Regions from separate parts of the Homo sapiens genome. Here region 2 is linked to region 1. A link means that fine-mapping ties the variant in region 1 to the expression of a gene that starts in the linked region. Tissue or cell type: whole blood. Region 1 holds a variant in brackets; the other region holds the start of a gene. All regions are shown on one strand. Distances are from middle to middle.

Region 1 (2,758 bases):
GTGTACCCATATATAATTCTCCCACACTAGCTTGCAGAAACCTAGAGGGCCCCCTACTTGTTTTATTTAACTGTGCAGTGACTGTAGTTACTTAAGAGAAAATGCTTTGTAGAACAGAGCAGTAGAAAAGCAGGAACCAAGAAAGCAATACTGTACATAAAATGTCATTTATATTTTCCAACCTGGCATGGGTGTCTGTTGCAAAGGGGTGCATGGGAAAGGGCTGTTGATATTAAAAACAAACAAAACAAAAAAGCCCCACACATAACTGTTTTGCACGTGCAAAAATGTATTGGGTCAAGAAGTGATCTTTAGCTAATAAAGAAAGAGAATAGAAAACACGCATGAGATATTCAGAAAATACTAGCCTAGAAATATAGAGCATTAACAAAGTAAAATTAATATATTAAGTTATAATTGGAATATGTCAGAAGTTTCTTTTTACATTCATATCTTAAAAATTAAAGAAACTGATTTTAGCTCATGTATATTTTATATGAAAGAAAACACCCTTATGAATTGATGACTATATATAAAATTATATTCACTACTTTTGAACACATTCTGCTATGAATTATTTATATAAGCCAAAGCTATATGTTGTAACTTTTTTTTAGAGAATAGCTTTATCTTGGTTTAACTCTTTAGTTTTATTTTAAGAGGGGAAAACAAAAATATCTTGCAAGCAGAACCTTGGAAAAAAAAAGCCATGAACACTTATTCTAAATGTAAATTAAAAGTTGAGCCAAACTCTTTGTGTATATAGCATCTTAAATATATTATCACCTTTGATGTAAGTACCTATGTATTGTATGGTCACCAGATTAAAAAGTATATTTTTGTGGATTGCCGCCAATCTGGGGGGAAAAGGCGAGGTCCTTTATTAAGTATTCACTGTTTAATATTTACTATTTTGTTAAATATACTGTACTTTGGATTTTAATTATTAGCCCAGTTTTTTCAGAGGATTGTATAAAGGGGTTTCTCCCCTCACTGGTGGTGAATGTGTGATGTTACATTGTAATCTTTGTGCTGTATGGGTTGAGCATCATTATATATTTTGTATGTGTACATAAATAGCAAAGTGGCAAAAAAAATTGG[TGTTAA/T]GTTCATCCTGCATAAGTATAAAATGTGTTGTAACAGATTTTGTAAGGCATTATTTAAAACTTGCCTTTTGTGAGGAAAAAATGTAGTAGAAAAAGCTGACCTAATTTAATTAATATTAGAGAAAATGGCAAAATAGTAGATGAGCACAAAGGTTTTATAAGTGGTAAATGATTAGGGGAAAATAATCATGGGGAAAGGGATCTTTTTTCCTTGACCCTCTGAAAACAGAACGATGCAGCTGGTTACAAAATCCTACCGTTATCAGCTCTTCTGCACATTGCAGTGATGCTTTGGTATGCGGGGAGAAACACTCTTAGGGTGCTGGTCCTTGGCATGACTCTTGCCATTCTAATTGGAATTAGTGCCACCCTCAGCTTGGATTTTGAACAAGGCCTTATTCTTTCAGGAAGACAACTAATGGATGATAGCAAGTTCATCCACTTACTGGGCTTGTGCCATGAGCAAAATTCAAAGTCCTGTATATCTTTCATTGTAGATTTTTAAATACTCCTTTTCCTAAAAAACTCAAGGGTTTAAAAATTGCTATTTTATATTTTAAATGATATTGAGCAGCTACCTACAATTTCTATGTACATTTTGTTCCCCCCCCCCCACCCCCCCCCCAAATTACGTTCCTTTTGACATTTTCCTCATCTGCTGTTTGTGACAAGTCATCAGCCAGATTTCCTGACTGACACATAGGTATGATCAGTGCAGGAGAGACCTGCGCACCACAGGCTGCAAACTGGAGGTTCTGTTCTCATGGCAGTTTGGGCAGTAACTTTTGAGAGAGGCCAAAAAAAGGAGGATGACATGCTGTCTCCTCTCTTCAGTATAGACATTAGGCTCTTATTCAGAAAGGATTTTTCTTTAAAAATGTACTTACTTTACTGAACTACTTACAGGCACATTTCTTCATAAGGCCACACCTAATCCAAACAAGACAGTCTCCCAACACTGAAGTTCCAAAATAATCCTTACCACTTTGTAAACCATTTATAGCTTTGAAAGTGTTAAGTGATTCCTTCGTTATTATTTATGCATGTTCATGAACTTCTGCTGTACATTGGAATAGGAGTTAACACATTCACATTTACTGTCTATTTTCTTGTGTGCCTTATGAGATGGCTTTTCTGACTGTATCTCAATAGTCTTTCTTTCTATGCAGGTTTATAATCAGTACAACTACTGTTTTCTAAAATACTACTACTCAAGGCTCGGAGTTTGTATTTAAATTACACTGACCAAGTAACAATGTATTCCATTTCAGGAACTGAATATTTGACTGTTAACCTTTTTCCCATACGTCCAGTGTGGCATGGAGCATATGGACTTGACAGACATCTCTCACCCAGACGCCCACGTGTGAACACACCCACATCCACATCTCTGGGTGGAAACCAGCCTAGAGAGGGGACGACGCTAATGGTGTTGCTTTAGAACCGTCTTTTCTTACCCTTTTAGACTCGTGTTTTGTATGAGACACCATTGCAAGAAAATTTTATCCCTCCAGAAGTATTTTATTACTAAAGAACAAAAGCAAAAAAAGCTTAAATTGCACTGGTTAAAGTACAGTTTCCAACAGCTGTCCTTCCTCAGTACTCTAATGGCCACTCCACCGCGAGTGGAAGTCACTGTTGTGTGTACACAG
Region 2 (2,758 bases), 150 kb before region 1:
TAAGTGCTGCGGGATTGAATTTCTCATCTTCAAATGCAAACAACCATTTGGCTTCGTGTCCATTACACAGGCACCTCTGGGGGCACATGCAGGCACTGTGGCCCCGAAAAACTCTTCAGAGGTGAGCGGCTTTCAGGATGAGAGGGCCAACAATGGCTCATCTCCTAAAGACCTCGATAAACATAATCAGTAGCCCCAGAAAACACAACAGCTGTCCCAAGCCTATCCCCTTTGCACCTATCTCAGAAAAGGCAACATGCAGAGTGGTCAGGAGTTCAAGTCCTCAGGGCCCTACTCTGAAGCTGTGACCCTGACAGGTCACTTTAGCGCTCAGCTTCCCTTTCCTCATCTGTAAAATGGGAATAGAAACTGAATCTGCTTCATGGGGCCTTGTAAGTATTACATAAGCTGTCATATGCAAAATGTCCATCACATAGTTCACCGCCCCAGGCATCCTAGAAACTATTAAGTCACGATAAGGAGGTTGCTACTGTCCTGGGACCTGGGGAGCTCGGCTGTCCAGTCCGAAAGGGCCTTCTCGCCCTCGAGACCCCTTCAAGTCCCTTTCTCTCCGGGCCCGGGTCCCAGAGTCCCCTTGTGCTTGCTCCTGAGGGTGACCTGCCCGTGCCCCGGGGCGAGCACAGGTGCGGCCCTGGCCACAATGCGGGCGTGGCGAGCCGACACCCGGGGAGGCCAAGGGCGCCTCGAGGGAGGGAGGGAGGAGGCTGACCCGGGCGTCCCGAAGGACCCGCCCGGCCCCGGACTCCGGGCGGCAGCCGGCCTCGCGCCCCGCCCCCGCCCCGGGAGCCCCGCCCAGTCCCGTCGCGCCGCGCCGCCCCACCGCCCGGGTTGGCTGCCCTGGAGGCCACGCGCGGCGATTTGCCACGCGCCGCGTCACCGGGCCGCTCCCGGCCTGGGCTCCCGGGGGCTGGTCAGGGAGGTGGCGGCGGCTGAGCGGCGGAGCGGGGGCGGCAGGGCGCGACGCCGCCGGGCCGCCCCGCCCTGGGAGGCGCCCGGGCCCTCATCAAGTGACCAGTATCCCTTCCAGGGGAACACGGTCCTTCAGAGGAAAGCGAGCTCCAACCCGCGGCCCCGGCGCCAAGCCGCCGTCATCTTCTTCCTGTGCCAGGTGATCGTCTCCTCACCCACCCGGAAAAACATAGTCCGCCCCCACGTCCTTGTGGAATAGCGCCCGCTTCCAAGCACCGTGACTCTCTTTGCCCTACCCTTGTCTTTCCCATTCCAATTACTCTAGAACCCACCGAGAGGATAATTCAGTCCTGAAAAGAAACTGATGGGGAGAAGCGAGGAAGGGAACCCAGGAGGGAGGGGAGGCAGGGCTGCGGAGGGACACCGAGGCGGCGGAGGTAGTGCGCACGCGCAGCACAGAACGAGTTCCGGTCTGGCCGAGGCTTGTCTCCTAAAAATAGCCCCGGTGTGGGGATCCGTGCGCGGATGTCCCGGCGAGTCCCGGGCTGAAAGAGGCGGCTCCGGGCGGCGCGAAGCGCTGGTGGCGGGCCCGGGCTGCGGCGTGTGCGCGCCCGCCAGCTGCTCCGGAGATACGGTGAGGGCCGCGGGCAGCGGGGCTCAGTCCGCGACGCCGGTAGTGCTGGAGGGGGGCGGCGTCTCGCTTAGGGGACCGAGTAGGGGTTGGGGTGGAGGTGCTGGGGCGGGGGACGGCGCGGCCGAGAGGGTCGCCCGGGGGGCTCCGGGGACCCCTGGACGAGGCCGTGTCCGGCTTGGAGGGGGCCAGGGTCGCGTTCGCGCATTGGCGGGGCGGGTAGGGTGCTGGGAGGCGGGTAGGGTGCTGGGAGGCGGCGAGGGGTGGTCGGGTCGGGGTCGGCGCTGAGGAGCTAGGCGCCCGGGGAGGTGGGGGCGGGGTGCCCTGAGGGCGGGCCGGTGGGGCTGGATGGGGCTCGGCTGGGCGGGCCGAGGGGAGCTCAGTCGCGCGGGCTGGTGGCGAGCAGCCTCCCCGGGCGCGCACCCCTTGGGGCCGGGGGGCGGTGGTGGACGTCGCCTCCTTGAAAGTTGAAGGAGTTCTCGGGAGACCCCGGAGAAGGTGCGCTCTGAGGGCCCTTTCCTTCCCCTTTTCCCTCCAAGCCCGGGGGTCTCCCCGAAGGGATTAGCCCCAAGTGCGGGGGGCCTTCTGCCCTGTTGGACTTGAAGAAGTTCCCCCACTTCTGCTTTGGGAGAAGATTGGTCTAACGGGGTGGAACGCTTAGGTACGAATTCTGTGAGTGTGTAGATGTCAGTGGCGGGGTCGGTGTTTGGGGCGGACACCTGCGGTTGCGGACGCCCGATCGTGCGGGGAGACGTCGCGGGGACAGAGGGGCTGCACAGGGAACCGCTGGCTGAACCCCTGCCATCCGGCTAGATCCCAGCTCGCAGAAAATATTTTTTGTGTTAGAAACTTTGCTTTTTGGCTCGATTTCATGCCTTTGAGCTGTGAGGGTTAAAGTAAGTGAGATAGTGCAAACAAGTTTGGAAAAGGTGAGCAATCCTGAATAAGAAAACAGTTTTTCTTTAAAAGTGTAACTATAGAATTGTTGCTCACATCCGAAATAGATTCCGGAGCTGTGAAGCGAGCCTCCTGTTATGGTCCAGCAGGGAACCGTGTGTAGCTTGAATATAACATAGTGTTAACCTGCGTTTTAGTTTACAGTGAGATTGGGATTCCAATAAATGCCCTATTAGAAAGGCCTGCTGTGATGTGTTAACAATAGCATATGTATTTTTAAACAAACATTGTCTTAACATT

Evidence for each region. PIP is the estimated chance that this variant, and not a neighbour inherited with it, causes the effect.
Region 2: MEF2A starts here. The variant in region 1 is fine-mapped to the expression of MEF2A in whole blood (INTERVAL, PIP above 0.99).

Annotation. Positions count from the first base shown.
Region 1 is chr15:99,713,091-99,715,848 of GRCh38, forward strand. It overlaps MEF2A (myocyte enhancer factor 2A), which reads left to right. Exons shown (of 12, transcript NM_001319206.4): 12 at 1-2,758. It also overlaps a transcript of LYSMD4 not described here. Among named protein-coding and RNA genes, the nearest start is that of LYSMD4, 19 kb to the right of the region's middle. The variant TGTTAA/T (reference allele first, on the strand shown) is at 1,102.
Region 2 is chr15:99,564,541-99,567,298 of GRCh38, forward strand. It overlaps MEF2A (myocyte enhancer factor 2A), which reads left to right and starts at 1,444. Exons shown (of 12, transcript NM_001319206.4): 1 at 1,444-1,564. RefSeq lists silencers at 615-1,054, 1,895-1,944 and enhancers at 766-1,741, 1,742-2,715.